Regions from separate parts of the Homo sapiens genome. Here all the other regions are linked to region 1. Evidence: fine-mapped expression QTL. A gene starts in region 1. Each other region holds a variant in brackets. All regions are shown on one strand. Distances are from middle to middle. Region 1 holds the start of ZCCHC24 (zinc finger CCHC-type containing 24). Region 2 has its middle 12 kb from the start of SFTPA2. Region 3 overlaps ZCCHC24 (zinc finger CCHC-type containing 24). Region 4 overlaps ZCCHC24 (zinc finger CCHC-type containing 24). Region 5 overlaps ZCCHC24 (zinc finger CCHC-type containing 24). Region 6 overlaps NUTM2B-AS1 (NUTM2B antisense RNA 1).

Region 1 (5,071 bases):
TCACTCTGTTGCCCAGGCTGGAGTGCAGTGGCATGATCTCGACTCACTGCAGCTTCCACCTCCTGGGCTCAAGTGATCCTTCCACCTCAGCCTCCTGAGTAACTGGGACCACAGGCATGCGCCACTACGCCCGGCTAATTTTTGCATTTTTTTGTAGAGATGAGGTTTTGCCATGTTTCCAGGGCTTGTCTGGAACTCCTGGGCTCAAGCAGTCTGTCTGCCTTGGCCTCCCAAAGTGCTGGGATTACAGGTGAGCCATTTGCAAGAACCGTGTACCTACTCTTTAAACAAATAGGTTTAATACTGTTTAAAAATATAAAGGGTACTGTATAGATGTGTTCTTGATGAATGAAAATATGAAGACATGATTGATACATATGCTGTCGTTTGTATTAATAACTGCAAATTGATAGACAAGATGGAGATCTGAGATCCAAGGGCCTCTTGGTTGGTGAAAAAGGGTGGCATTTGGTCATCACTGAAGGCCTTCGTGGTGCGAGCGACCATAGATGTGGTTAGGTGCCCTGCAGGTGATGTGAGTAACTCGTGGAGTGGGTGGCGGGGAAGAGCTGTCCTTTATGGAATATCTTCCGCTTACCAAACCCAAGCTGGGAAGCACACAAATGTCCCCGGCGGCGGGAGGATGACTGCTCCCATTTTACAGAGGAGAAAACAGGCTTGCTCGCAGAGGTTAGGCGTCATGCAGAGGTCATTCCGCTGGACGGTGGCCAAGCTGGCACTCCAACGCTGGGCGGAATGGCTCCAGAGCCAGACTGAAAGTGGGAGAGGTGACTCGGTCCCAGCCAGGCGGTGAGTTCCTCTGGGCTAGGTCCCCGGTGCTGGCGCAGCAAAGACCACCCGGAGAAAGAGACGGTGAAGGCCCCGGGGCTTCCTGGGGCGTCAGGCGGAGGCGGAGGCGGGGGCGGGGCTCCCTCCAGGCAGTCTTGGACTAGCTGAGTTGTCCCAGCGAGATGGGTGACAGCCGCTTTCCCGAGCTCCCCCGGCCCAGGCTGGTGTCCTGGCGACTCGCCAAGGCACCGGGGCGGGCTAGGGCTGGAGCCGGGGTGGAGGAAGAGGGTCGAGAAGCGAGGCGGGCCCAGAGCAGAAATAGGAGAAGGGGGGGGGGAGGGGGCGGGGAGTCTTTCCTGGGGCAGGAACCCGGGCCCCCCTTGGCGCAGCCGGCCCGCAAAGTGATTCTGCAGATGGAAGGAATTAAGTAGGAGGGGGAGGGTCCGATGGTGATAGCGAGAGGAGGGAGTTAGAAGTGTGTGCGTCTGTGTACACGCGTCTGAGAGAGGAGCGGGAGAGACAGGGAGAAACATCAGACCAGACGGAAATAGAAGAAAGGAGACAAGAAGAGTGAGAGAAAGAGAAGGACATACACACACACACACACACACACACACACACGGAGGGCGCCACATACAAGGACGACGGACACAGGAGACTAGTACTAGTCTAAGAGAGAGAGAAAGAAGGAGTATGAGAAAGGAGGGAAAATAGGAAAGGAAAAGTGAGTGAAAAACAATTGCAGAGGATTTGGAAAGAACGAGACAAGAGCGCTGACGACAGAGGGAGACGAAATTGATTAGGCCGGGGCTGCACTGAGCTCCCGGCAGCTCGGGGAGCTGGGTTGGCCGGGCTGGGACGAGGTGGGGCTTGGGCGGGGCCTCGCATGGGCGGGCCCGCGCCGTGCTGCATATGCAGATGAGCCTCACTCCCCTCTCTCCCCACCCCTGACGGTTCATATTCAACGAGACAGCCAATGCAGGGCGAGGACAGTGCCAGGCGGGGCAGGGAGTGGGCGGCGGGGCATCGTGGACCCCACCCCCGGAGCCGCCGCTGGAGGGGTCAGCCGCGAGGCAGATAGCGGATCGCCGGGCGGGGCGGGACGCAGTGGGCGGGGCGGAGGGGCGGGGCCAAAAGTTTCCTGCCCAACTTTCGCTGCCTCCTTCCACCGCCTGCGCGCGCCGGGGCCGCAGTCGGGGGGAGGCGGCGGCAGCGGCAGCGGCTGCGGGCAGCGCGCGGGGCGCAGGGCGCGGGGCGATCACCGTCGGGGCTCGGGAGGCGGGCAGTGGGCACAGGCTCCCCGGTGCCCGCCCCTCCGCTGCGGAGGGGGGCCGCGAGCGGGCGGCCGGGGAGGGGCCGGCACCGCCGCCACAAAATGAGCCTGCTGTCGGCCATCGACACGAGCGCCGCCTCGGTGTACCAGCCCGCCCAGCTGCTCAACTGGGTCTACCTGTCGCTGCAGGACACGCACCAGGCTAGCGCCTTCGATGCCTTCCGGCCCGAGCCGACCGCCGGCGCCGCACCCCCGGAGCTGGCCTTCGGCAAGGGCCGCCCCGAGCAGCTGGGCTCGCCCCTGCACTCCAGCTATCTCAACAGCTTCTTCCAGCTGCAGCGCGGAGAGGTGGGTGCCCCCGCGCGCCCCCGCCCACCGCCCCACCGCCCCACCGCCCCACCGTGGCGGGCCGTTCCCTGTCTGACCCGCTCTTCCTGGCCTGGCGCGGCCCGGCTCCGCATTGCCGGGCCCGGCTTGGCTTGGCTTCGTTCAACTCTGCCAAACTCGCCGCCCGAAGTCCCCGGGGTGCCGGGTGCGCGTCACCTCCCGGCTGAGCCCGGGCTGGAGCAATGCAGGCCGGGGCGGAGCTCTCCCGCCCCCTCTCCCTGCCAGGGCAGCCCTGCTCCAAAGGGGTTGGGGGAGGGAGTTGAGGAGGGGTTGTCTCCGGATTTTCTTCAGACAGCTGGGGTGCGGCCTGGGCGGGGAGCCCCTTCGAAGTGTCCTTCTCACGCCCAACCTTATCCTCGTCCTGGCCACCGCGGGCTGGGACCGAGAGTGCAGATTCTGCTCGGAGCTCCTCTGGAAGGGCCTAAAATCTTTTCTCCGACCTCTGCGGTTCCCGACCCGAAAGGCACCCTGGAGAGCAGTGACTGCCCAGAGGGCTTCTCCTGCTGTTCTCACTCGGGGACCCCAGATACGTCCTCCAGCTGCTCGCCCTCCCCCAGCCACATAGGAAGTGGTTTCTGAGGGCTTGACCCCACAGACTGCGCTGTCCCCAGCCCTCCCAGCCTCGAAGGAAATGAAAGGGAAATCCTCTTGAGCTCTTGGGAGGGGGGCTAGAAAGGGGGGGGGAGAGGTTCCAGCTGCCCAGCGCCTTCTGCAGAAACCTGGGCCGGCTGTGTTGCAAAGTCTGCCTGTTTGGTGGATTCAGTTACAAAGTTGACTGGGCAGCGCCTCTTTGCCAGCAAGATAAATACACAGATCGCCACCACCTCCCAGCCCTTTTTGAAGAGTCTCCAGGGCCTGCCCAGATACCACTCCTTTCCGTGGGCTGGACTCCTCCCCTCCCTCCATTTACTCCTGCCTCATTTGGGAATTTCAGACACCCATCTGTGGCCTTCACTTCCTCCCCTTGTGGGGGTTTTCTCTGCAAAGATGCAAGAGGTGTGTTCGGGGGAGGACACACATGGGGGTCACTTTCCTTCCAGACCTGGGCACACCGGTGAGTTTTAGGAGAGTCAGAGTCCTGAATGGGTTGGGGAGGAAAGCCTATGTACGCAAGGGTGTGCTGGGGGTAAGAGAGGGAGGCAGAGGGTCGCCCTTGAGTTCAACTCTGCCATTATTTACTAGGGGAGGCATGGACATATAAAATGCTGGCCCAAGGCCAACACTACCCAGGCTGACCTGTTGACCTGGGTGGGTAGAACAGGCGTGGGAGGGGGCTGGGTGCAGAGGAGGAAGATGAGTCTGAAAGTGCACCCTTTGGTGTCAGGCAAAAGCATTTCTATGCCAAAGCTCTTTGTAAACTGTAAAGCATTCTCTCCACGTGAGGAATGGTTCTTGGCTGGGGATCTTTCTTTCTTGTAAGAGACTTTTCTGCCTCTTCAGGGAATTGGCTTCAGGTGACCAGTGACTGGAGGACCGTTTGTGGGGTGTTTCTTTGGTGCATGCGTCTTTTCAGTTGTTTGTTCTCTTACCAAACATTTGTTGAGCTCTGGGCAGGACCCGGGGATTCACAGCCACAGGCTAGTGGGGGCCACGGATGAGTAAACAGACAAGGTGATAGAGGGTATGAATGGTGGGTGATTTGATGGGGGTGCTTGTGGGAGCCCCACGGGAGTTTCTCACCCTGGGAGAAGGGTGAACATGACCCACAGGTCAAGTGTGGACCCCTAATCAACCTCTTCTAGCCTCCCTCTGCTCCCCCTACCATGGTGGCATTGTTCCCCACCTGTGGGTCTCCCCTGAGAGGACCTGGGAGTTTGGAACCATCAAGAGTACCCTATAAGAATAGGATGTTGTGCTGCTTTTTGAAAATTTCTGGCATCCAGGATCCCAACCGGAGCTCAGTGAGAACTGCCCTCTGTCACTTCATTGCTGCGTACCTCAGTTTCCCCATAAAGTCACACAGTGTGAAAGGAGCAGGAAAAGGTTATACTGTATAGTGCAGTGGTGGGGAAATGTCTTTCACAACCTGACTTCAGGGAACCCCGTCTCTCTCTGGGCCTTAGCTTACCTATCTGTTAAATTTAGTCTCTGCTACACCCCAGGATGGTATATCTATAGTATTTGAGACCTGTTCAAACAAGAGAGGGCTGGGGGAGTCAAGAGGGGCTTCTCTGATGTTCACAGGCCAGTGGCTTCCTCGGAGGTGATGGAGGGCTGTGCCTGCTGACTTCCGGAAGGCTCTCTTGGCTTCAGGCTCACTCATCCTCACCCCCCACCCACTTTGCCTCCTAAACCCTCTCAAAGCCTCAGCTGTGTTCCTGAGGACAGGCCTTTCCTGCGCCCAGGGCTTAGCTGGTGACCTAATATGGCTCCAAAATAGCAACTGGCTGAGAAGGCAAGAAAAAATACCCCCCACCCCAATGCCACCAAGGGGCTGGTCGGAGAGGAAGCAAGTCGTGTGTGGGCCGGAGGGGACTCTACGGAGGGACCCAGGGGGCCCAGGAGCATCACCATTCTGTGCGAGGCCTGGCAGGCCCAGTGGCAGTGCCTGCGGATGTGACTTGCATGCTGACCACTGACCACGGCCTGTCTGCGCCAACCCCTGTGCCAAGAGCCCACCCC
Region 2 (5,071 bases), 130 kb before region 1:
TTAAGAATGTGATTTTTGCACATTGATTTTGGATCCTGAGACTTTGCTGAAGTTGCTTATCAGCTTAAGGAAGATTTTGGGCTGAGATGATGGGGTTTTCTAAATATACAATCATGTCATCTGCAAACAGGGACAATTTGACTTCCTTTTTTCCTAATTAAATACTCTTTATTTCTTTCTCTTGCCTGATTGCCCTAGCCAGAAATTCCAACACTATGTTGAAAGGAGTGGTGAGAGGAGGCATCCCTGTCTTGTGCCAGTTTTCAAAGGGAATGCTTCCAGGTTTTGCCCATTCTGTATGATATTGGCTGTGCGTTTGTCATAAATAGCTCTTATTATTTTGAGATATATTCCATCAATACCTAGTTTATTGAGAGTTTTTAGCATGAAGCGCTGTTGAATTTTGTCAGAGGCCTTTTCTGCATCTATTGAGATAATCATGTGGTTTTTGTCTTTGGTTCTGTTTATGTGATGGATTACGTTTATTGATTTGCATATGTTGAACCAGCCTTGCATCCCAGGGATGAAGCCGACTTGATCATGGGGGATAAGCTTTTTGATGTGCTGCTAGATTCGGTTTGCCAGTATTTTATTGAGGATTTTCACATCAACGTTCTTCAGGGATATTGGTCTAAAATTCTCTTTTTTTGTTTGTGTCTCTGCCAGGCTTTGGTATCAGGATGATGCTGGCCTCATAAAATGAGTTAGGGAGGATTCCCTCTTTTTCTATTGATTGAAATAGTTTCAGAAGGAACGGTACCAACTCCTCTTTGTACCTCTGGCAGAATTCGGCTGTGAATCCGTCTGGTCCTGGACTTTTTTTGGTTGGTAGGCTATTAATTATTGCCTTAATTTCAGAACCTGTTATTGGTCTATTCAGAGATTCAACTTCTTCCTGCTTTAGTCTAGGAGGATGTATGTGTCTGGGAATTTATCCATTTCTTCTATATTTTCTAGTTGATTTGTGTACAGGTGTTTATAGTATTCTCTGATGGTAGTTTGCATTTCTGTGGGATCGGTGGTGATATCCCCTTCATCATTTTTTATTGTGTCTATTTGATTCTTCTCTCTTTTCCTCTTTATTAGTCTTGTTAGAAGTCTATCAATTTTGCTTTTCTTTTCAAAAAACCAGCTCCTGGATTCATTGATTTTTTTAAGGGTTTTTTTGTCTCTATCTCCTTCAGTTCTGCTCTGATCTTATTTCTTGCCTTCTGCTAGCTTTTGAATTTGTTTGCTCTTGCTTCTCTAGTTCTTTTAATTGTGATGTTAGGGTGTCAATTTTATATCTTTCCTGCTTTCTCTTATGGGCATTTAGTGCTATAAATTTCCCTCTACACACTGCTTTAAATGTGTCCCAGAGATTCTGCTACGTTGTGTCTTTGTTCTCATTGGTTTCAAAGAACATCTTTATTTCTGCCTTCATTTTGTTATTTACCCAGTAGTAATTCAGGAGCAGGTTGTTCAGTTTCCATGTAGTTGTGCAGTTTTGAGAGAGTTTATTAATCCTGAGTTCTAATTTGATTGCACTGTGGTCTGAGAGACAGTTTGTTGTGATTTCTGTTCTTTTACATTTGCTGAGGAGTGCTTTACTTCCAACTATGTGGTCAATTTTGGAATAAGTGTGATGTGGTGCTGAGAAGAATGTATATTCTGTTGATTTGGGGTGGAGAGTTCTGTGGATGTCTATTAGGTCTGCTTGGTGTAGAACTGAGTTCAAGTCCTGGATATCCTTGTTAACCTTCTGTCTCATTGATCTGTCTAATATTGACAGTGGGGTGTTAAAGTCTCCTATTATTATTATTGTGTGGGAGTCTAAGTCTCTTTGTAAGTATCTCAGAACTTGCTTTATGAATCTAGGTGCTCCTGTGTTGGGTACATGTATATTTAGGATAGTTAGCTCTTCTTGTTGAATTGATCCCTTTACCATTATGTAATGGCCCTCTTTGTCTCTTTTGATCTTTGCTGGTTTAAAGTCTGTTTTATCAGAGACTAGGATTTCAATCCCTGCTTTTTTTTTTTCTTTTTCTTTTTTGTTTGCTTTCCATTTGCTTGGTAGATCTTCCTCCATCCCTTTATTTTGAGTCTATGTGCATCTCTGCATGTGAGATGGGTCTCCTGAATACAGCACACTGATGGGTCTTGACTCTTTATCCAAATTGCCAGTCTGTGTCTTTTAACTGGAGCATTTAGCCATGATGTTAGCTGGTTATTTTGCCCATTAGTTGATGCAGTTTCTTCCTAGCATCGATGGTCTTTACAGTTTGGCATGTTTTGCAGTGGCTGGTACTGGTTGTTCCTTTCCATTTTTAGTGCTTCCTTCGGGAGCTCTTTTAGGGCAGGCCT[C/T]GTGGTGACAAAATCTCTCAGCATTTGCTTGTCTGTAAAGGAGTTTATTTTTCCTACACTTATGAAGCTTAGTTTGGCTGGATATGAAATTCTGGGTTGAAAATTCTTTTCTTTAAGAATGTTGAATATTGGCCCCCACTCCCTTCTGGCTTGAAGGGTTTCTGCCGAGAGATCCTCTGTTAGTCTGATGGGCTTCCCTTTGTGGGTAACCTGACCTTTCTCTCTGGCTGCCCTTAACATTTTTTCCTTCATTTCAACCTTGGTGAATCTGACAAACATGTGTCTTGGGGTTGCTTTTCTCAAGGAGTATCTTTGTGGTGTTCTCTGTATTTCCTGAATTTGAATGTTGGCCTGCCTTGCTACATTGGGGAAGTTCTCCTGGATAATATCCTGAAGAGTGTTTTCCAGCTTGGTTCCATTCTCCCCATCACTTTCATGTACACCAATCTGATGTAGATTTGGTCTTTTCACATAGTCCCATATTTCTTGGGGGCTTTGTTCATTTCTTTTTACTCTTTTTTCTCTAAACTTCTCATTTCATTAATTTGATCTTCAATCACTGATACCCTTTCTTCCACTTGATTGAATCCGCTACTGAAGCTTGTGCACGCATCACGTAGTTCTCATGCTGTGGTTTTCAGCTCCATCAGGTTATTTAAGGTCTTCTCTACACTGTTTATTCTACTTAGCCATTCGTCTAATCTTTTTTCAAGTTTTTAGCTTCCTTGTGATGGGTTTGAACATCCTCCTTTAGCTTGGAGAAGTTTGTTATTACCGACTTTCTGAAGCCTACTTCTGTCAGCTCATCAAAGTCATTCTCTGTCCTGCTTTGTTCTGTTGCTGGTGAGGAGCTGCAATCCTTTGGAGAAGAAGGGGCACTCTGGTTTTTAGAATTTTCAGCTTTTCTGCTCTGGTTTCTCCCCATCTTTGTGGTTTTATCTACCTTTGGCCTTTGATGATGGTGACCTACATATGGGATTTTGGTGTGGATGTCCTTTCTATTGATGTTGATGCTATTCCTTTCTGTTTGTTAGTTTTCTTTCTAACAGTCAGGTCCCTCAGCTGCAGGTCTGTTGGAGTTTGCTGGAGGTCCACTCCAGACCCTGTTTGCCTGGGTTTCACCAGGACAGGTGAACAGCAAATATTGCAGAACAGCAAATATTGCTGCCTGATCCTTCCTCTGGAAGCTTCGTCTCAGAGGGCACCTGGCTGTATGAGGTGTCAGTTGGCCCCTACTGGGAGGTGTCTCCAAGTTAGGCTATGTGGGGGTCAGGGACCCACTTGAGGAGGCTGTCTGTCCATTTTCAGAGCTCAAACACCACATTGAGAGAACCACTGCTCCTTCAGAGCTGTCAGACAGGGATGTTTAAGTCTGCAGAGGTTTCTGCTGCCTTTTGTTCAGCTGTGTCATGCCCCCAGAGGCGGAGTCTACAGAGGTAGGCTGTTGAGCTGCAGTGGGCTCCACCCAGTTCGAGCTTCCTGGCTGCTTTGTTTACCTACTCAAGTCTCAGCAATTGTAGACGCCCCTCCCCCAGCCAGGCTTGCTGCCTCGCAGTTCTGTCTGGGACTAGCAGTGGCAAGGCTCCATGGGCATGGGACCCACTGAGCCATGTGCGGGATATAATCTCCTGGTGTGCCATTTGATAAGACCATTGGAAAAGCACAGTGTTTAGGTGGCAGTTTCCCGATTTTCCCAGTACAATCTGTCACAGCTTCCCTTGGCTAGGAAAGGGAAATCCCCCAACCTCCTGCACTTCCTAGGTGAGGCAATGCCCCACCCTGCTTTGGCTCACCGTCCATGGGCTGCACCCACTTTCTGACCAGTCCCAGTGAGATGAACCACTTACCTCAGTTGGAAATGCAGAAATCACCCATCTTCTGTCTCAATCACGCTGGGAGCTGCAGACCAGAGCTGTTCCTATTCAGCCATCTTGGAATCCCATCCAGAATATACTTTAATACTTTAATATTTTAACATATGAAAACCTCATAACCTGACAGCTTTATGTACAAGAATGTTCACATCAGCATTATACATACTAAATTGAAACTGAAAAAATCACTGTCTGTCAACACCATAGTAAAGAACCAGTTGTCATATATTCATCTAGTAGAATATTGGTCAGCAATGAACACACTATTGCCATGTGCAACAACATAGATCAATCTCACACATACAATGGCGATCCAAAGTAGCCAGACCCCAAAATTCCCTAGTGTATAAGTATGTCCTTTATATAAATTTCAAGAACAGGGAACCTAATCAATGGCAACAGAGGTTAGAATAATGAGTTCCTATAGGTAAGAGAGAGGGCATAGAAACTGACCATACAAGAAGGTCTCTGTGGTGCTGGCAAAGTTTACTTTTTGACTGGTTGGTAGTTTTATAGGTTTTAATTTGTAACAACTCACTGAAATGTAAACTTATCTGTTATCTTTTTTGTTTATTATGGTGCACAAGTTTTTCCAAAAAGTTAAAAAGATAGTGAAGAATACATTACCAAAATTAAAAACAAGCAACCCCCAAGAAAAGAGTATAGTTATAATTAGGTCTATATGTGTTCATCTGAAAAGATGCCTGAGGGATGTAAGGGAAATCACTAATTGCAGAATTTGAATAGATGTCTGGATGTCTGAGGTATGTAACACTAGTTGTAGAAGAGTATCTGCAGTATGATCTTTTTGGTGCAAAGTAAGAGAGAGAGAGAATTTCTGAGTCTATTTCTTT
Region 3 (5,071 bases), 32 kb after region 1:
CCTTAGCAACCTCCCTTGAAGCAGCCTGGAGGTTTTGAGCATGTCAATGGGAGGACGGGAGGGGCTGGCTTTGTGAGCCTAGCAACTCAGTGTGTCTCACTGTGTCTTAGCCTTCATGGTACCCAAGATCATTAGGAATACCCCAGGGGCAGAAGTCCTCTGAGACAGATGCGGTGAGTCAGGGACAGGAAACCTGGACCCAAGGGGTCCAGGTAGAGGAAGCAAGTAGAGGCTTGGGAGGCCTGACATTGATGAAGAGCCTGGGGACCAGTGCTGTGTATCCTTAGGCCAGTTACTTGCAGTCTCTGTTTCCCTATGTGTAATATGGAGGAGAGGTTAGACAAGATCAGTGATTCCATCTCGGGCTTCACATTAGAACCACCTGGGTTTTTTTTGGTTTTGGTTTGGTTTTTGGTGCTAGAAATTTGAATTCAGTAGATCCAGGGTGGGCCTGGCCAAGGGCATATTCCTAGCTCCCCAGGTAATTCTGACGTGCAGCTGGGCAAAAGCACCATTGCCAGGTCTGAGATGGTGGGGTGCTCTGGCAGCTGTGGTGGCTGCAGGTGATCATAACCACAATTATCCTCCTGAGGTCCTGGGAATGCAAGATTACAAGGTTCCGGGAGACTCCCAAATGAACATTCCAGAGGTTCTAGATATCCAGAGGTTCCAGATGTTCAACCTCAGATTCCCTAGGTCATGTGACTGCAGCTTTATTATTCTGAGAAGTGAAGCTTCCCACAATGGAGGATTCTGACACTTGAGTGTTCTGGTTTTGTGACTTTAAGAGTGTGAGATTCTATAATCATTCTGTATACCTCAAGTACGTGCTTCTGAAACCTTCCGTGTGTTTCTGTGTTCCAACTGCAGTTATTATTCTTCTCTAAAATGAAGATTCTCCATGTCTGTAATTCCAACACATTCATTATCCCAAATTCTAGAGACTCCAAGAACTTAAGCTATTGTGGCACTAATATTTTTTAAAATTCTAAATTCAGCAACTCTGTGACCTGTCATTCCATCTGGGCAGTTGGCCGCCAAGGCTTGGGCCCAGACTTTGTCTCCTTGAGACAAGGTGGTGATCGTATAAGCTGGGACACGTGCCCCCTCACCTCCTTGGCCTGGAGAGCCTGTCTTGGTGGAAGGGGTGAGGGTGGGGAGAACAGAGACCCCACGGAGCTCTCACTTCTTTGGCTCTTCCTCCAACACTGGCTGTAGAGGACTGGAAGGTGGAGCAAGTGTGAGGGGCACATGTGGCCATGCGGCAAGGAGGGCAGCAGGTGGACATACAGCTACATCCCCGAATTGCTGCTTGTATCCACCCATCTCACAGCAAAGCTGTGAATTCTCTGTGTCAGACTGGCTTAGACATTAGAGGCTATCACATCCGAAGCACCTCCCTAAACTCTCTCTCTCTCTCTCTCTCTCTCACACACACACACACACACATGCGCACGCACATATACCCTTTTTCCACCTAGGAAAACTAAGGCCCAGAAGGAGGAGGTGACATGCCTGATAGAGCTGGCATCCAAACCCAGGGCCCTGAACTCCCGGTTGTCATTGCATGGTCCTTTCCAGCTAGTCAGGCCCAGGTCTGGCTTTCTGCACAGAACCATCAGCTTTCTATAGCTGACTTTCAGGTCCCTCCAAGGGGACAGGGACCAGCCCGGTGACTCAGGATTACACATTTAAAGCCTGTAGCCTGGCGGATTTCACTAGGCCCAGGAGAGGCTCCCCCTGCCCCCGCATGACCTCCTGGCCGTTTCCTGCCTGCCTGACCACAGTCTTCCGTTCCACTCCCCCAGGACGGGTGCCCGCCTTGTGCCAGTGCACATCAGGCTCAGAGGCCAGGAGGCAGAGGCTGGGCTGGAGTCAGGCGTGGGGAGGGGTCCCGCCACTCACTCACTGTGTGACCTTGAAAAAGTCTCTCCACCTCTCTGGGCCTCTCCATGCTGTGGGCCGGTGGATGGTAATTGACAGAGTTACTGTGAGGATTAAATGAGACCCCAGGGGAAAACCCAGCATGCTGGGAGGGGAGGGGCAGAGGCTGGTCACATCCACCGCCCACTGGTCCCCTCAGCACTGAACCCATTTTGGATGAGTGGCTTGTGTTTGTTGAAGGTGTCTGGGTAGACTTCCATATAATCCTTCAGAGATAAAA[T/G]GATGGATTGCAGACTCTCCTGGGCTTTCAGAAGGTTGGCTGGTAGAGGAGATAGAGTCCAAAGGCCTTGGACACCTGAGATTTAGGCAGATGTCCAGAAAATGGTGATGATGATGTTGATGGTGGCTATTGTTAACTGAATTCCAGCCATGTGCTTGGTACTCATGAGCTCCTTAAAGCTTCTCGACTGCCTGCCTGATCGATCTTATTATCCCTACTTACACGGGGGAAACCAAGGCTCAGAGCATTTCAGAAACTTGTCGAAGCTCTTGCCGCCAGTAATGGCTAAGTTGGGATTCAAACCCAGGTCTCCAGGACCGCACAGCCAGAGCTCTGTTTCACTTCGTACTCAGCTAGAAGAGGGGACGCAGGGCCACATGATGGATGGTGGCCATCTCTCTACGTGGCTGCAGGCAGTCCACGGCCAGGGAAATAGAAAGACATTTTCTAGAAGAGATGCTAGTGGTTGCCTGTTTTCCTCCCTCGGTGGGATTCTCCCAATTTTCCATGTGGCTATTTTTATCACTTTTAGAAATCTGGAGCTGCCTGTGGCTGCCCAGTCCCTGGAGATGGGTGGAACACACAGGGCTCTGCACAGCCACCCACACCATGTACGTACGCGGGGCTGCCAAGGGGCGAGGGTGTACACGGGCATGTCCGCCCCTCACCGATGCACCTGTGCACACTCGCACAGAGGCTCATGCCGCTGCAGGCTGCTGCCAAGTCCAGGGGACCCAAGAGCTTAGCAGGAAGCTCCTGAGCTACCTCCCTTGGGGTTCTGGAGCCATGGGTCTGCCTTGGCCACTCACTTCCTTGTCAGTTGACTTAAAACGGAGTTGGCAGGTCATGCCACGGTGCGTTCCGCTCGCTCCCTGTGTGCATGCATGCGTGTGTGCATGTGCAGCTGCAGACCTGTGCACACCCAGGCCCAGTTCAGGGCACAGGCTCAATGCCCCCTGTGGAGGCGTAGCAGGAAGTCCTTGCTCCAGGGCTTCTAAAAGCCAAGACTCCCCACGTGGTTCCTCCCACTCGCGAGATTCTGGCCTTCTGGGCTTCTGGGAGCCAGGGAAGGGCAGGAGAGACAGCCAGGGCTCTGTAAGGGGCACATGTGGGGTGCTCCAGGGACTGGGGACGGTGGACTTGCTGGGGGTCCTGCCCTGGCAGAGCAGGTCTCTGGGGCTGAGAAACCTTCTCAGAGTGGGATGGCAGGGTCCTGGGGCTGAGCATGGCACCTCCAGGAGGGGCCGAGGCCTCCTGGAGGTCTCCTGACCCTTCTTCTGTCCTCACAGTTGCTTCAGACTCTCCCTAGCACTGGCCTGGGATCCCAGGAGGCCTGAGCTTGGCCCTGCCTCTCACAGGCTGTGTGGGCTGGAGTCCCCTGGCCTTGGCCTCCTCCTCTGGAAAGTGGGGCACCCGTGGGCAGTGGAATGAGACTTTGGCAGTCCTGCTCTGTGCATATACTGGGCACACTGAGCCCTGGGAGGCTGGGGCCACCTTTCCCTCTAGAATCTGGTTCCATCCTCTCCCTCCTGGGTTTTCTTCCGCTGCAGACTCAACACCCCTTCCGTTGAGTCCTCCTTCATGGCTCTGAAGAATTGTTTTGGGGCCCAGCAGGCAACTTGGAACAGTGGGGAAAGCCCTGGCCTGCCACCGTGGCCTGTGTTCACATGGTTCCTGCTCTGAGCCTATTTGCTCACCTGCAGGGGAGTGTGTGTGTGTTTAATTATAGCACCATGCCAGGATGCCTGGCCACATTAGACTGTAAATCTAAAGACAGAGGTCAAGGCCTCTTTTTACCAGCCCCGAGGTGATTTTCAAATCAGCTTTAGGGTGGATCATACCCCCAAGGGCACCTTGAGCAGGCTCACATGACAGGTTTATAGGCGATTCCTGAGGACAGGAGCCAGGGCAAACAGTTATCATGAGGCTGCCATCCATCACTGTTGCCTGCTGTCCAGTGACGGCCAGTCCTCCTTCCGTCCATCACTGCCGGCACAAGACACCGTCATCACCTTCCCTTGCTCCACCCTGGCCTTGTCCCCCAGTCAGAGCCAGGGCAACCATGGGCCAAGAGGGGAGCTCCTGCCTCAGCCCCCACAGCCCCGCAGCTGATTGAGGCCACACACCTGGGAGTTGCTCTTGAGTCCTTGCTCTCCTCCCCCAAGGCTAGCCCAAGTGCTGCTGACTCAACCTCCTGCCATCTCAGGGGTCTCTCACTCTTCTCCCCTCTGCCACCCATCCCCAGACCACACCCCCACCACCTCTCCCCAGCAATGTGGCAGCACCCCCCTAACTGGTCCCCCCATGTCCAACCCCTCTGTCCACTCAGCAGCCAAAGAGATCTCACAATGCCAGGCAGACTTTCGCATTTTCAGCGCTTCCCTGGCTTCCCATACTCCTGGGCTGATATTTAACTCTAAGATATGGTCTAGGACCTGGACTGGCCTGGCCTCCAAGCCTCAAGCCCTCCATGCTTCCCGTGGTCTAGCCCTTTGCACAGGCTGCTCCAGCCCCACAGGGCCCTTTCCACTGTGACGTCACTCCTCCCCAGCCATGCTGGCCAGATGCTCCCAGAACATGGGGCTCTGCTCATCCTGAGCACATCCCAGAAGGCCAGATCAGTGTTCAAGCATGCTACTTTTGTCTGACTGGTCATCGTGTATTTATTGAGTACCTACTATGTGCCAGGTGCTGCTCCAGGCATGGGACATTCCATAGTGAACAAGAAAGATGAGGAAAGAATGCAGTTCCCAATCTTGCAGGATGACAAATAGTAAAGAAATTGACACCAATGGATATGCTATGGTGGCAGGTCATATTCAAAGACAGTTGTCAGGGATGGTGTCTCTGAGGACATGACAACTTGAGTAGAGACAAATGAAGCAGGAGCAAATGGTGTGGGCATCT
Region 4 (5,071 bases), 26 kb after region 1:
CATAAAAAAATGTATAGAAGGCTGGGTGCGGTGGCTCATGCCTGTAATCCCAGCACTTTGGGAGGACGAGGTGAGCAGATCGCCTGAGGTCAGGAGTTTGAGACCAGCCCGGCCAACATGATGAAACCTCATCTCTGCTAAAAATACAAAAAAATTAGCCAGGTGTGGTGGCGCACACCTATAATCCCAGTTACTTGGGAGGCTGAGGCAGGAGAATTGCTTGAACTCAGGATGTGGAGGTTGCAGTGAGCCGAGATCGCACCACTGCACTCCAGCCTGGGCAACAAGAGCGAAACTCCATTTCTAAAATAAATGAATAAATAAATATAAAAAATGCATACAGGGAGGGGCAGAAAGGTAACACCACAGACAAAAAGCCCTTTGAATGTTAGACAGTGGAATTAGCAAAGAAAGTGTTATACTGCCACCCATTACTCATTAGCAAACATCCAGAAGGAAGGAAGAAAGGAAGAAAGGAAAGAAGGGAGGGAGGGAGGAAGGGAGGGAGGGGGAAGGGAGAGGGAGAAGAGGGAGGACAGACAGCATCATTCTGTGTTCCCACTGAGGAAGGACTGGGCCTAGGGCAGATGGCATAGCAGGGGATGGGTGCTGAAGGTAGCATTGCAGGGGGTTCTCCTGGAGCCTGGGCTGGCTGGCCAAGGGGCCTCAGCTGAGGTTCTTCCAGCACTTGGCACAGAACCTGGAATGTCGTGAGCACTCAGAGAATGTCAGCTGGGATGGGTGTTGCTGGGGGTGTCGTGCCTGCCGTTTGGCAGGTGGTGGCTTGGCATAGATGCTGACGTTAGGGTAGTGCCCCAAACCCAGTGTCCGGGCCTCGAGGCTCTCCTCCTTGCCCTGCCGAAGCCCTCTCCTTTCAGTGAGGTGCCTTCGAGCACAGCCCTGAAGCCAGCCTGCCTGCGTTCCACCCCTGGCGCCGCCTTGTAGCAGCAGTGCTATGTGCCTTTGGGAAAAATTCATTCAGTCTTTCTAGGCCTCAGTTTCCTCCTCTGTAAAATGAAGATATTAAAACATCCTACTTCATGGGATGTTGTGAGCTTAACCGAGTTATTTTATCTGAAGTGTTTATAACAGTGCCTGGCACCTTGCTTGCACTGCAAGTAGTAACTCTTAGGACTGTTAATTACTGTCATTATTATTATTATTATTATTATTTTGAGATAGAAACTTGCTCTGTTGCCCAGGCTGCAGTGCAGTGGCATGATCTCAGCTCACTGCAGCCTCCGCTTCCCGAGTTCAAGCGATTCTCCTGCCTCCTGAGTAGCTGGAACTATAGACATGAACCACCACACTAGGCTAATTTTTGTATTTTTAGTAGAGACAGGGTTTCTCCATGTTGGCCAGGCTGGTCTCAAACTCCTGGCCTCAAGTGATCTGCCCGCCTCGGCCTCCCAAAGTGCTGGGATTACAGGCGTGAGCCACCATGCCCAGCCTACTGTCGTTATTATTATGCCTCAATTCCGCTGTTTCAAACTGGCTTGAGAAGTCCCAGGGTTCTAAGAGACTGCTTCAGCACTGTGGGGATCCACAGAGGTGGCTGGAGCCCTCCCTTCCCACCCTCATTCCCTAAGGGAGGGGCTGCCTCTGGGAGGGGCTGCAGAGAGGCCAGGTGACAAGGCTGTGCTTTCTCAGGGGTCTTGGGGAGGGGACAGGGGAAGGCCCAGATGACTTTGAGTCCCCCAGGTTGTGCTGGGGGGACTCTGCTGTGCCCAGGATGGGTGCTGTGGGAGGAGGGGCGATGCACAGCTGGAAGGTGCCCAGTGCCGCCTGTGGGCTGTCAGTTCCCCTATGGCCCAGGGAAGAGGAATCTCTCTCCAAGTGCTTGCCTAGGAGCAGCTGCTGGGGGTGGAGCAGGGGTGGGGGATTGGAGGGGT[G/A]GGGCATGGAGTGTGAGGGCTCATGGGGAGCCACTTTTATATCCTTCCTGCTGCCTCTTGCCTGGCAGGAAAGAGCCTAGGAGGGCCAGTTTCACATCCTCAGCTGCCAGTTCTGCTTTTAGAAGAATTGCAGATGATAATTAGGAGTCCCCAGGAATCTCGATGGGTCAATGGCCTCACCTTCCCAGCCCTCTGCTTCTGAGCCTTAGGGACAGAGATGTTGGCAGAGCCTAGGAGCCAGGACCAGTCCTGGTCTTGAACTACCTGCAAGGCCTAGTGAATGGAATGCTGGAGCACAGCAAGTGCATCCTTAAGCTGAATAGCTCCAAGTGTCACCTCCTTTGGGAAGCCCTCTCTGATTTCTCCTTTCCTCCAAGCTCAGAGGGACTGGCCTCCTCTGAATGCCAGAAAGGCTCACTCACTCACTCATTTATTCCTCACCTGCCAAGGGCCTCCAGTGTGCCAGGCCCTTGGCCTGCCCCTCTCACATGGCTTTCCTTTGTCTTGGAGTAACTCAAGTGCCCTTTGCTGTGAAGACTCCGGGGAAGGTTCTGGCTGGGACATCCCTTGGTCCCTCAACCTCAGTAAGAACAGGAGAGCCCCAGGCAGCGGAGTCTCACTGAGCTGGACTCAGAGTTCACTTTTGCTCTTTCCCAGCTGTGTGTCCTTCGCCGTGTTGCCCACCTTCTCCCAGGCATCTGTAAAATGGGTTCACCATCCTTGCAGAGTGTGTGTGGAAAGCGTCTAATGCAGGGCTTGGCATCCCACAAGCACTCAGTAAGTAAGTGGCAGCCCTCACTGTTGGTATCACTTGTTAGGCCGTGGGGCTTCCTGAGCCAGATCTGCCCTCATTTGTAAAGTGAGGCTCATGTACCTGATGGGAGGGTTGGTGTGAGGGAGATGAGAAGCAGCCCGGATACCTGGGAAGCAACACCCACCGGAGCCCCTCTCCTTCTCCCTGACCCACCCCTGCAGCTGCTTAATTTCATGCATGCACGCAGACACATATGTGCACACATGCAAACGTGCGTGCATGCACACACCCCTTGGGCTTCTCAGCCTCAAGGCCTTGCTCACACTGTCCCCGAGTCTGCAATGCCTTTCCCGAATCTCTTCTCTCCTATCCCCCTTTCAGAGCCCAGCTTGAGCCCACCTCTCTCAGGGAGTCTTCCCCAACCATCCAGGGCCTCAGAGCTCTCCTCTCTGAACCCTAACTTGTCAGGACAGCACCCCTTCCCCAGAACCTGGTTTTAAGGCCCTCAAGAGGTAAGAAATCTCAACCAGGTTTCTCATCTTTCCCCCATCCCCATCTGGCCCCTAGGGGACAGAGAATGCCCCTCTTTGGGTGGGCTTCACTCTGCCCTGCCCCAGTCCTGGAAGGTAGCCCAGCCTGGGCCGTTTGACCTCTGCTCAGCCTTCTCATCCCCACTCCACCTGTGCTATGGCCTTAGCCAGTGACTCTCTCATCTCCCCCAGGTTCAGCCCAAACACGTCCTCTTGCATGGTGCAGCCCCTATGCCCTTCTATGCCCCATGTGCTCCTGCCTTGGTGAGTCGTGCCTAGCCCAGGGCCGGTCCTGGCACAAGTCTGTCTCCTACTTCCTGAGGTCACTTCCCAGGCGAGGTCTGTGTCTGCCTGGCAGGCAGAGGGAGCATGGCCTTGGGGTCAGAAGGCCCGAGCTCTCATCCCAGGGCTGTCTCTCTAGCTGTTCAACATTGGCCAAGTTGACCTTACCCTTGGGCCCCCACACCCCCATGCATGAAGTGGCATCAGCAATGAAGCCTGTCTCTCAGGGCTTCTGTGAGATCCAGAGGCGATCAGACAGGTGAACGCGCTTTGAGAACTGTGAAGTTATACCATTTGCTCCACTGCCCAGCGAGCAGCCACATTTGCTGAGATGATCAGAGGTGTGCGAGCGAGGGTGTTTAGGCCTTGGTGGCTGCTGTGAGCTGACCCCTGCCTCAACTGCCATGGGGTCTTGGAGGCATATTTGTGAGGGCAGCATTTTCCCTTTCCACCATGTCTGGGGTGGCTGCCCAGGGTGGAGCCTGTGTTGGGTGCCTCCTGCTCCCAGTGGCTTTGTGTGGAGTGGGAGGTGGCCCAGCTGGGGCAAGGTGGCCAGATCCCAGCCTGTGGGTTAGAGGACTTGGCACCACTGACCTGGCCTGACTTGGAGACATGGCTCCTCAACACACCGCCCCCACTCCCTCCCATTCCAAGGCTCAGGGCTCAGAGAAACGGGGCAGCAGGTGCAGGGAAGAAATGTGCATGGAATGGGGGTGAGGAGCCCGAGGACATCAGGCCTTCCTCATGCCTGGCTCACGGAGCACCTTCGTCTCATTTGCTGGCTGGGTTCTTACACTCACCTGGATGTCATCTGTGGCCCATGTGCCCACTCTTCTTCTCTTTCTTCATCTCTGTCTCTCATCCTTTCTTCCTCTTTTCTTTTGTAACAGATTACATAACTTGCCCCTGGTCCCACAGCTGGTTAGGATCAGGCCAAGTCAGTCTGACCTTAGGCCGTGCCTTTCCCACTGCTCCCTCTGCCCACAACAACGGATGGGGGTCCATCCTCTAGGACATGCTGTAGACCTGCTGATCTCCAGCCCTGGCAGAAATCAGGCTGCAGGAGGCACTGTGAACCCAGGCCTTCCTCCCTGCCTGGCTTCCTCCAAGTTCCCTGGCTGTGTGGGAGCCACAGGTCTCTCCCTGACAGGTTGGGGTGATGGTGAGGTGGAGGGGTGCCCCCAAAGCAGTAGGCATGATGACAAGGGGTAAAACCCAACAGGGGCCCATGCTCCTCTGCTCCTTCCTGGGGACTGTGAAGCTCAAACAGAGCCTTGTGCCCCTCCCTCCCGCAGGCCCTCTGAGCCCTCCCCATGCATCAGTCCTCCCTCTGTGTTCCCAAAACACCCTGCACAAACGGCTTAGTATTTTGTATTCTCTTTTGATTGTGATCCCGGGGAGGGGGAAGGCTGGCAGAAAATCACTTAGCGCAGCACCTGGCACATAGTGAGTGCTCAGCAAGTGTGAGCCATTGCGTTGCTGTGGCTTCAGTGCGCCATCCACAGTGTCTGCCGTGGTGCCCACTCTGAGCAGGGCCCCGTCATAAGGGAAACATATTAACAGCACAGCAGCTACACGCACAGGGAGCGCTCACTGTGTTCCGGGCACTGCTC
Region 5 (5,071 bases), 55 kb after region 1:
AGAATCACAGCAGTGGCCGCAACTGGGAAGGAGCCCTTGGGCTGGGTGTTGTGGAGATAGTAGAGCTTGGAGCCCAGTGCAGTCTGGTGAGAATGATCTAGAAGACAGCAAAGGGCTGATGGTGCAGGGGCAAAACGGGGGATGCTTCACCCATCGGCACAGGAGGGAGGGAGAAGAGGGGGTAATTAGGAAGTTTCATGGGTTGGATGGTGCAAAGAAGAACCTCACATCCAAGGCTTCTGTTTTCTCAGTGAATGGGAGACAAGCGGGCTGGGGCGGGCTTGAGGAAGGATGAGCAAGGAAGCAGCCTGCTAGGGAAAGCTGGCTGGACCACCCAGCCGCATCCCAGGCCCAGGGAGGTGTGCAATCCTAATGCAGTGGCAGGCATCAGCCTAGTTCCGTGACTTGCTCCAGCACAGCTCGCCTGGCAGGTGCAGGCCAGGCCTGGTGTACGGAGGGTCCACGGGGCAAAGGTTGGCTGGGCGAGCACTCCAGAGGGCAGATGGTTGGGGGGTGGGCCTATTTGTAAAAGTATGATGACCGTGCTTCATCGTGGGGCATCGGCAGGGAAGGGAAGCTAGACGGGACCGGTGGAGAGGGAGGCCGGGTGGGCCTGTGGACTGGGTGGAGTCTGGGAGCCAGTGGAATGGAAGGAGAGAACGAGGGGGCAGAGATGGGTGGTTTCTGAAGAAGCCCAAGTCTAGGGTGTGGCTGAGGGGTGGTAGGAGGGAAAGGTCACTGTCGATGAGGTAGTGGGGGATGGAGGAGCCAGGGGTGGGATGGGCCATCCATGTGTACTGAGTCACCGCAAAGGACAAGCAGACAGAGGAGGCAGGAGGGGAGAGCGCTCCGGGAGCTACTGGGGGAAGGCTACCCTGAGGGAGAGATGTAAGACAGCTCTGATGGGGTAGAAGGTCAGTAGACCGGGGGCCCGGAGGATAGCTTGGAGCCTGGAAGGGCAGATAAGTGGCCTGGGAGGGAGCAGGGGAGGAGGGAAGGCAGATAATGGTGGCTGGCTGGGGGCAGGAGTCAGGAACAGCCCAGTTTCTGCAGGGCCTCAGATGTATGGGGGCTGCTGGGGTCTGTGCTGACAGTCCTGGGGGCTGGGTCCTTACGACCCCCACTGTGACTTAAGCAGAGAGACAGGGCCCAGCCTGTGCACCAAAGCCCCACAGGAACCCAGTCTCCGCAGTGGCTCCAGCCCTCAGCCCCTGCCCCGATACTGCCCCAGCTTCTGGCTGGGCAGGGCTCCTCACCATGCCCCTTCCACAATGCCAGGCCCATTCCTGGCTTGTGTCACCATCCCCAAGCTGGCAACGGCCCCACCTGCCTCGCCATCTCCATCCTGCCAAGCTCAGTCCCAGCACAGCTCCCTGACCACCTGTCCCCCATCTCCACATTCAGGATCAGCTCTCCCAGGACCCAATCTAAAGGATCCCTCAAGAGTGTGTGGCTGGGCCCTTCCCCTCTTCCAGTCATTAGGCCACTGTTGAGCACCTACTGTGTGCACTGGGGACACTGAGGCCCCAAAAGGAGACAGGACTTGAGTAGTCAAGTGACCAGTGACCAGTCAGCTGGTGTCAAGGGGCCCTGGAACTCAGGTCTCCCACCGCCCAGGGCTCTATCTCCTCTCCTGAGCTCCCAAGCTGGGAGGGGGTATGAGAGTGGTGCCTCTCTATCCCCCAGCTGTCGGGAGCCTTTGAAGAGCCCAGCGGCGGTGCTCCCCATGTTGCCCCGCGGTGGAGAGGGCTGGTTTATTTCTCCTGCCCCACAGAGCCCTGACCTGTGTGGCCTCCGTCTCTGGAGAACCCCCCACTTCCCCACTCTCCTGGCCGCCACATCTGCTTCCTGTCGGCCTCCAGCTGCAGCTCCCCCTACCGACTCCGGTCCCCTCAAGAAGAAAACACCACTGGGCCTTGCCTTGCTGCAGGGAGTGGGGGAGGCCCTCCACCACAGTCAGCCCCAGCTGCAGAGTGTTTTCCGTCTGCCGAGGGGAATGTCTTGACAGCTTCCCCAGGCTCCTCGCCCAGTGGCAGGCCAAGCAGGGCTGAGCAGTCGAGCCAGAGCCCGTGCCCACAGAGGGAACTCCCACCATGGGGTCATGGCCAAGGAGGGGGCACAGCTCAGATGAGCCCAGGAGGGTGCTGGCAAGGATGTTTCAAGATCATTTCACCCGGGACTTCGCTGTTTCCCCTGCCCCCATGCTGCCCCTAACCCTATATAACACATGATACCAATACTGGCCAACATTTTGAATGCTCTCTATGTGCCAGGCACTGTTCTAATCCCTTTGCATAGACTAATTTACTCTTCACAGCAACCCTATCATGTAGAGTTAGCCTACAGACTTAGCCCCCATTTTATGGAGGAGAAAATTGAGTCCCAGAGAAGTTAAGTGATTTGCTAAAGGTCACACAGCAATCACTAAGTCTTCTGGAGCTTTTTATGGTTATAAAATACTTTAAGACAATCATCGCAGCTGGGCACAGTGGCTCATACCTGTAGTCCCAGCACTTTGGGAGGCCAAGGTGGGAGGATTGCTTGAGCCCAGGAGTTCAAGATGAGCCTGGTCAATATAGTGAGACCTCGTCTCTATAAAAAAATTTTTTTTAAACAATTAGCCAGGTATGGTGGTGCATGCCTGTGGTCCCAGCTACTTGGAAGGCTAAGGTGGGAGGATTCACTGCACTCCAGCCTATGTGAGAGTGACCCTGTCTCTAAAAAAGACAGTCAGCCAGGCGCAGTGGCTGATGCCTGTAATCCCAATACTTTGGGAGGCCAAAGTG[G/T]GTGGATCACTTGAGGTCAGGAGCTCAAGACCAGCCTGGCCAACACAGCGAAACCCCGTCTCTACTAAAACTACAAAAATTAGATGGATGGTGGTGTGTGCACCTGTAATCCCAGCTACTTGGGAGGCTGAGGCAGGAGAATCACTCGAACCCAGGAGACAGAGGTTGCTGTGAGCCGAGATAGCATCACTGCACTCCAGCCTAGGCAACAGAAATGAGACTCTGTCTGAAAAAATAAAAATAAATAAAAAATAAAAATAAGACAGTCATCTTATTTACTTCTCTATCACACAGACACACACACACACACACACACACACACACACACACACTAGGAAAAAGTCAGTGAATGTTATTAACCTCTCACCCAGATCCCAAAAGGGCAAGTTGAGGTTGTGGAGGAGAAAGATCCTTCCCAACAGCCCTTAGCTGATAGGCGGCAGAGCTGGCATGCAAAGCTCTGTCTATCTGACTTTGGTGATATCATGTCATATGGAGACGTTGCAGAAGACACCAGACACAGAGTTTTCCAGAACAGTCTTCAAAACAAGCTGGCAGTGACCCCTTCAGTCTCCATGGAGGTTCTGCCCTCAGTCCTGGGCCTGCAAAACCTCTGTCAGCCCCAGAGATGAAGACTCAGAAGGCAGATGCCAGTCAGGGTGGGTGCAGCTGGCAGGTGCCAGTGAATTCCCAGGGGAGAGCGCTGTGCCTGTGAAGACACGTTCCCCTCCATCAAACACAGGAGGGTGCTGCCCTGGGGACAGAAAGCCAGGGACTCAGACGGGCTGGGAGGGAGTGCTGCAGTCTGGGGTGGGCACTGGTCACAAGCTGGCCCTGAGCCCCAATACAGTGTAGCCAGTGGGGCCAGCTGCAGGCGGTAGGCAGTATGTCCCTGCAGTGCAGGGCTTGGAAACAGCATGTGTGGCTTTCCAGCCACCCTACCTACCACCTCCTCACTGCAGGCCCCAGGGATGTCCCTAACGTCTTGGAGCCTCAGTTGCCTCATCTGTGGAAACTCCCTTCCCCATATATCTGTGACCTGTTTCCTCCCTGTGCCACTCACAGGGAGGTGGTGACATTAGGTGGCGACATTAGGTGGCCTGACTTAGGTGGCAGTACTTTGCCACATAATGTGTAAGCCATGGGGAGTGAGGGTTGTGTGGGGCCTGCTGAGTCTGGCCTTTTTGGCCTGTCCTGGAAGACTGGGTCCAGGAAGAGGCCCTGGCCAGTCAAGGGGGTGGGGGCTGCAAACCAGCTTTGTTTTGGTGTGCTGGAGGGGACACTTCACGACTGTACTGATCAGACCGTCCTTTGGGAGCCAAGCAGAGTCTGTGTGGCTGGGATCTCCAGGATGAGGTGACAGGGACCCAGATTCTAACTCAAGGTGGGAAGTCTTCTTACAGTGCAGGCAGTAAACTGAGCGGTGGGCTCTGCCAGCAGGCAGCTCTCCAGCCCTGAGGGCACCCAAGCCCCAGATGGAGGAGCTGTTGGAGGTCTCCCTGGGACGTCCAGGAAAGCAGGGAACGTGCCCTTCCTAGGTCCTTTCACCTTGGGATCTTGGCTTAATTTTGATAGCCCTCCACCAGCTGGTGTCCCCCTCCCACCGATAAGACAAACGACAGACAGCTTCTGCATGCCGGGCTGTTTGTATTCATTATCTCCATTGAGTTGTCTGGTGAGAACAAGCCCATGAGAAAGCTGTTATCAGCATCCCTGTTCACAGATGGGAGCATGGAGACCAGAGGGGACAGGTGGCCTGCCCAAGGTCACACAGCTCTTAGGTAGCAGAGCCGGCATTCGAGCCCAGGTCTGACAGGAAGTCCAACTCCTCTCTTCCCTGGCCAGGATGAAAGCTGGACAGGGAAGCCAGTCACCTGAAAGCCTCTTGTGATGTGGTTGACGTGCCTGTCTTTCCCTCCAGGCCTTGGCTTTGTGACTTTAAGCCTGGGAGCACAGGGATGGGTTTTATGACCCCTGGGCCAGGGGCAGAAGGGTGGTCCCTGGATCAGAACCCTCCCACCACAGTCTCCCCACCTGCCTTCTAGAACCTTCTGACTCTTCCATTCCCAGACCGCTCTGAGTGTCCTCTTGGGGCCAAGACTGTGGATTGGGTGGAGAAGCCAGTATACTACTTTTGAGCCATTCACAGCCTGGCCAGGGGGACAGAGCACACCCTCTGCTGCCCTCCCCTGTCATCCGGGCCATGGTCTGCAGTCCAGGTTCTGCCCCCTCTCCTGGGCATGTGGCCCCAGGCTGGCCCTGACCAGCTTCCTGTGAGCCCCCCA
Region 6 (5,071 bases), 320 kb before region 1:
AAGCTCTTTTTGTTCTTCTCCTTTCTCCCATGTAAGGATGCTACAGTGAGAAGATGCCAGGTCCTCATCAGACACCAAACTTGCTGGTGCCTTGATCTTGGACTTCCCAGCCCTTAGAACTGAGAGAAATAAATATCTATAATTTATAAATTACCCAGTCTGTAATATTGTGCAGCACAAAGTGACTAAGACATCGTATGTATACTGATGACATACAGATTTAGTCCTCATCTCTTCCTTCAACTGCAGGCCTCTGTGTCCAACTTCCTTCTTGACTCCTCCACTTGGATGAATAATAAATAGCCGCCTCAAATATTTTAAAGTCCAAAACAAACCCTTCATTGAACTGTTTGTTCCCTCTTTTCAACCATGCCTTGTCCATGTGGACACCCCCACCCCAAAAGTCATCCTTGATTTCTTTTTCTTTACCCCCTCTGCCCACATCCAACCCATCAGTAAGTCTTGTCAGTTCTACTTCCAAATTATGTTTTTAATGTTATTCCCATTTCTCAGTTCCACTATCACCACCACGACTATTTCTTGCCATAGTCTCATTTCTTGCCATAGTCTCATTTCTTGCCATAGTCTCCTAAATGGTCTCCCAGTCTCTAGTCTTGCTGTCTTATAAATTCCTCTCCAGTCAGTAGCCAGAGTTATCTTTCATAAAATATAATTTTAATTTTACAAAAAAAAATACATGTGCAGAGTTTAAGCAGGCAGAGTTCAACAAATGATACCACCAAAAGGAAACAAACAAACAAGACATACCAATAGCTTCCAGATAAATAATTTTTAATGGCTTCAGCTCAGAGTTATCTTTTCATTTGTTTGTTTTTGGTTAGGTTTTTTGAGGTACAATTTGCATAGAGTAAAATGCAGCAATTCACATATTTAGGTATACATTCCAGTGAGTTTTGACAAATATATTCAGTCATGTAACCACTATGATAAAAATATAGAATATTTCCTTTACCCATAAGATATAGATGGATATAGATATAGATATAAAAGATACAAGGTCTCCTTCTGTTGCCCTTGAACTCCTGGGATCAAACCTCCTGCCTCAACCTCCCAACTAGCAGGGATTACAGGTTTGAGCCACTGTACCCATCACCATAAGTTATATTTTAATACATTAACTGAATCATGTCAACTCTTTAGGCAAAAAGCCTTCAGTGACTTTCTTCTAACTTAGAATAAAATTCAAACTCTTTGTCAGGGTCCTTGAAGCCCTACAAAACTCACTTCCATTTACTTCTCTGAACTCCCCTAATAACAAGTCCCCTCACTCAGCAGGGCCCTGCTAAGGAGTTTCAATCTGCTTCATGGACGTTCAACCTGCCTCTCCCCTTGTCTGGAATGATCTTCCTCTGATGTTCCATCCACCTTACTTTTTCTGATCTCTTTATTCAGTGTAGCTTTCAATTCACCTCAAGTAAGTTATTAATTATTTTATCCTGTTTATTTCTTATCACAATTTGGGATAATTTTGTTAATGTATCTTTTTGCTTGTTTATGTCTTAGACCACCAGAATGTAGCAAGATAAAGGCAGGACCTTGGTCCATTTATGCAAGACTATATTCCCAGCTCCCATGATATTATCTATTCTACCACACAGAGGGTTCTTCATATTAGGTTGAACTATTTGGAATTACCCACATATGACCATTTTTGACCTACAAGAATGGCGATTTCATATGGTTCATTTGGTTTATAAATATTTGCTGAATAAATGAATGAACTGAAATTTTGAGTTGATGCCACCAGGAAGAGAATAGACAGTTATATTTGTGCGCAGTTAGAAAGAGTTCGCTGTCCTGAGTTCACTTGATCACTTTTTATCCTAAATTGCCACCCGCTACCGTCGTAGTTTTCCACATAATAATTTTCTATTAGGAAAATTATTCATTAAAACAGATAACATGGGTCACTTAAGTGTAAAACTTAAAGGTAACACTTTTTTAAGGAAATCTACCAGAAGAAAATCTTTTTCTAATTTTTAAAGTTTAATGAAACATAATTTACATACAATGTAAATGGCTAATAATTTACGTACGATAGCTAATTTTTAACTCTTCATGTTTTTTTGTTGGCAGGCAACGTGTTGGACCTTCCGGAGCTTCTCAGAAGACAGAGGGTTTTCTTTTGAGGTAAATTTGATAGTACATTTTGATAGTACGGGAGGCGATACGGCATGGTGACAGAAAAGCGCCGGCTTGGTTAGCAGGACCACCTGGCAGGGCTGCAGGCTGTGCCACTTACCAGGCAGGGGACCTTGGGCCAGCTGCTTGGCCTCACTCACCCTGTTTCTCAGCTGCAATTGGGATGAACAGACTGCCTGCTTCGGGGTTGCCTAAAACTCACATTGGTTAATGATGTGAAATGCTTAGCGCAGTGCCTGGCATAGAGAGAATTCTCATTAGATGATACCTCAGCTGGGCTTTAGGAGCTACAGAAGAAGCTGCATCTCCATGAGCTCAGCGTGTTTCTAGCTTTCCTTTTTGTTTTCTATTCAACCTTTCACCCAACTCAGCTTCTCAATCCCTAAATGACAAAGGTTTGGGAAGGAAGACTTGGACCGAGGCTTGCATTTGTTTCTGAGAATTAAACGTTATGTTTTCTTCAATCTAAATAGGTTTGCTTGTACAGCCTTGTTGAATGGTTTTTTTTTTTTTTCTCCATGATAAATGACTCTCAACTTCTTTTCCCTCATCTAATTGCTTATCTACATACAATGCCTGGAAGGAAATAAATGTAATGGCCCGTAGCAACTGGCCTTCAGGTATCAAGTTTAAGTCCCTTTAAGCAGAACAGCAAATTGAGCACAGAATGAACTGGTTTCATGGTAG[C/T]GTACTGCAATTAGATGCAAGAATAGGGAAAGCAGGGTGCTTCAAGTGGTGACACAATTAGTATAGCACTGAGGGACTTCTCTTTCCACTTCTTCAACTCCGCCTGCATTCCGCTGGCTGAAGAGTTGATGACATCCCTGAAAAATCTTCCCTCTCTTGTTTCTCTGATGCCACCTCTGTGTTCTCCGCCTCACTGGCCACACTTCCTTTACCTCCCAAACTTTTAACTCTGAGTGTCCCAAACTTGTCTCATCACCTACCCCTGCTGCCCAGCTCCCCAGCCTGTTCCCCTTCTGACACGGGCACTCTCCTTCTGCTCTCTTGGGAGAGAAACAATGAAGGCCTATTTGGCACTTTTATTTCTATTCAAGGAACCAGACTGTGAACAAGTTTACCATTTAGTCCTTTGGACTGTGTCTTGAATTCATCCCTCTTCTCCATTCTCACCAGCACCATCATCATGATGGCTAATATTTCCTGAGCACCTTTCATTCAGGCATGATGCCAGGTGCACCAACTTACTTAATCCTCATAGCCACCACCTGAGCAAGCTCCTGTTTTATAAATGGACCAGTTCTTGTTGCTGTTGTACAAGTTATTTTCTTTCTATAACGTCCTCCTTGTCCTCCTTCCACATTCTTAAAGAAACTTTCCCTTCCTTTAAAGTACTCAGGGAGCCCTGCATTGCTTCTTGAAGCCTTCTCCAGCTTCATCATCTCACAGTGGTCTCTCTTTTCACTAAATGTCCAATATGCTGCACATAAGTACCCCAAAGTTAGCACAGAATTGTTCCATGGCTGTCATATATGTTAAAAATCATTAAAAGTTCATTTTTTCTCCCATTATGGGAAGGATACATGCTCCTACTAGTAAATTTAGTTGGTAGAAAAAAATTATCACTATCTAGACTGCTTTCCCTTTAGTCTTTATGCATAGCTTTCTGTCTGCCTATTTTTACTTTGTGTTTGTAACTTACTATTATAAAATATGCATCTCTATGTTCATTGTCAACATTATTTACAATAACATGGAGTGGATTTACATGTATTCTCTATATTTGGATTAAAGGAGATAGAGTATGTGAAATTAAATGGGAGAAGTATCTGATACATAACAGGCAATACAAATATTATCACATAGCGTCAATTTATTTGTGAATATTGAAAGCTCCAAAAAAGAAAAAAAGTTTTTTTTTAATTCCCGTAATTACTTATTGCAGTATTGTGTTCATACAAACTGCTCAGTCATTTTGGAGAAATAACAATTTTTTTCCTCATCATGAAGTAAGGTATGCTCACTGCAAAAAAAATCTAGAAAATAAAGAGGAACATGCTAAAGAAAAGAATACTCCCATATAATCTCTGTCTTCATAAATAATCTTTTGTAACGCTTATACACTGCTGGTGGGAATGTAAATTAGTTCAGCCATTGTGAAAAGTAGCGTAGCAATTCCTTGAAAAACTTAAAATAGAATTACCGTTCAACCCAGCAATCCCATTATTGGGCATATACCCAGTGGAATGTAAATCATCCTGCCATAAAAACACATGCACATGTATGTTCATTGCAGCACTATTCACAATAGCAAAGACATGGAATCAACCTATATGCCCATCAATAGTAGACTGAATAAAGAAAATATGGTACATATTCACCACAGAATACTAAGCAGCCATAAAAAAGAAAAAGATCATGTCCTTTGCAGCAATATGGATGGAGCTAGAGGCCATTATCCTAAGCAAACTAATGCAGAAACAGAAAACCAGATACTGCATGCTCTCACTTATAAGTGGGAGATACACCATGAGAACACATGAACACAAAAAGCGGAAAAAGAGACACCATGGCCTACTTGAGGGTGGAGGCTGGGAGGAGGGAGAGAATCAAAAAACTTCCTATGGAGTACTATGCTTATTACCTGCGTGATGAAATAATCACTTTGAACATTGTCAGTACATTATCTTCTAATCTAGACTCTTTTCTATGTTCTATATGCACACAGAAATACACATGCAAAGCTGAACACATATGTGAAACAAAATTCAGACACTCAAATTTTCCGCCAATACATGATAAAATCTTGCACAATAGCTTCCTCCACAGAGGAAAATGTCTTTACTACATCTTAAAAATGGGGTAAATGAATAGTTAGGCTCTTCAGTGTAATAATCATGGTAAATATTCTCAATGTGCGAAAATACAAACAAAAGACTTTCTCTCC

The links.
Region 2: its variant is fine-mapped to the expression of ZCCHC24 in whole blood (INTERVAL, PIP 0.94).
Region 3: its variant is fine-mapped to the expression of ZCCHC24 in whole blood (INTERVAL, PIP above 0.99).
Region 4: its variant is fine-mapped to the expression of ZCCHC24 in whole blood (TOPMed, PIP 0.98).
Region 5: its variant is fine-mapped to the expression of ZCCHC24 in whole blood (TOPMed, PIP above 0.99).
Region 6: its variant is fine-mapped to the expression of ZCCHC24 in whole blood (INTERVAL, PIP 0.98).

Annotation. Positions count from the first base shown.
Region 1 is chr10:79,442,534-79,447,604 of GRCh38, reverse strand. It overlaps ZCCHC24 (zinc finger CCHC-type containing 24), which reads left to right and starts at 1,981. Exons shown (of 4, transcript NM_153367.4): 1 at 1,981-2,410. The coding sequence starts at 2,165. It overlaps LOC105378383 (a long non-coding RNA gene), which reads right to left and starts at 1,364. Exons shown (of 4, transcript XR_946104.4): 1 at 1-1,364. RefSeq lists silencers at 1,549-2,058, 2,069-2,128.
Region 2 is chr10:79,569,603-79,574,673 of GRCh38, reverse strand. No RefSeq gene overlaps it. Among named protein-coding and RNA genes, the nearest start is that of SFTPA2, 12 kb to the right of the region's middle. The variant C/T (reference allele first, on the strand shown) is at 2,344.
Region 3 is chr10:79,410,139-79,415,209 of GRCh38, reverse strand. The region is part of intron 2 of ZCCHC24 (zinc finger CCHC-type containing 24); the gene reads left to right. Among named protein-coding and RNA genes, the nearest start is that of ZCCHC24, 33 kb to the left of the region's middle. RefSeq lists enhancers at 1,293-1,801, 1,802-2,312. The variant T/G (reference allele first, on the strand shown) is at 2,165.
Region 4 is chr10:79,416,877-79,421,947 of GRCh38, reverse strand. All of the region lies in intron 2 of ZCCHC24 (zinc finger CCHC-type containing 24), which reads left to right. Among named protein-coding and RNA genes, the nearest start is that of ZCCHC24, 26 kb to the left of the region's middle. The variant G/A (reference allele first, on the strand shown) is at 1,893.
Region 5 is chr10:79,387,577-79,392,647 of GRCh38, reverse strand. The region is part of intron 3 of ZCCHC24 (zinc finger CCHC-type containing 24); the gene reads left to right. Among named protein-coding and RNA genes, the nearest start is that of PPIF, 43 kb to the right of the region's middle. RefSeq lists a cis regulatory region at 1,333-1,833 and enhancers at 1,989-2,098, 1,759-2,344. The variant G/T (reference allele first, on the strand shown) is at 2,787.
Region 6 is chr10:79,763,351-79,768,421 of GRCh38, reverse strand. NUTM2B-AS1 (NUTM2B antisense RNA 1) reads left to right here. Exons shown (of 7, transcript NR_120613.1): 6 at 2,098-2,151. Among named protein-coding and RNA genes, the nearest start is that of NUTM2B-AS1, 61 kb to the left of the region's middle. The variant C/T (reference allele first, on the strand shown) is at 2,851.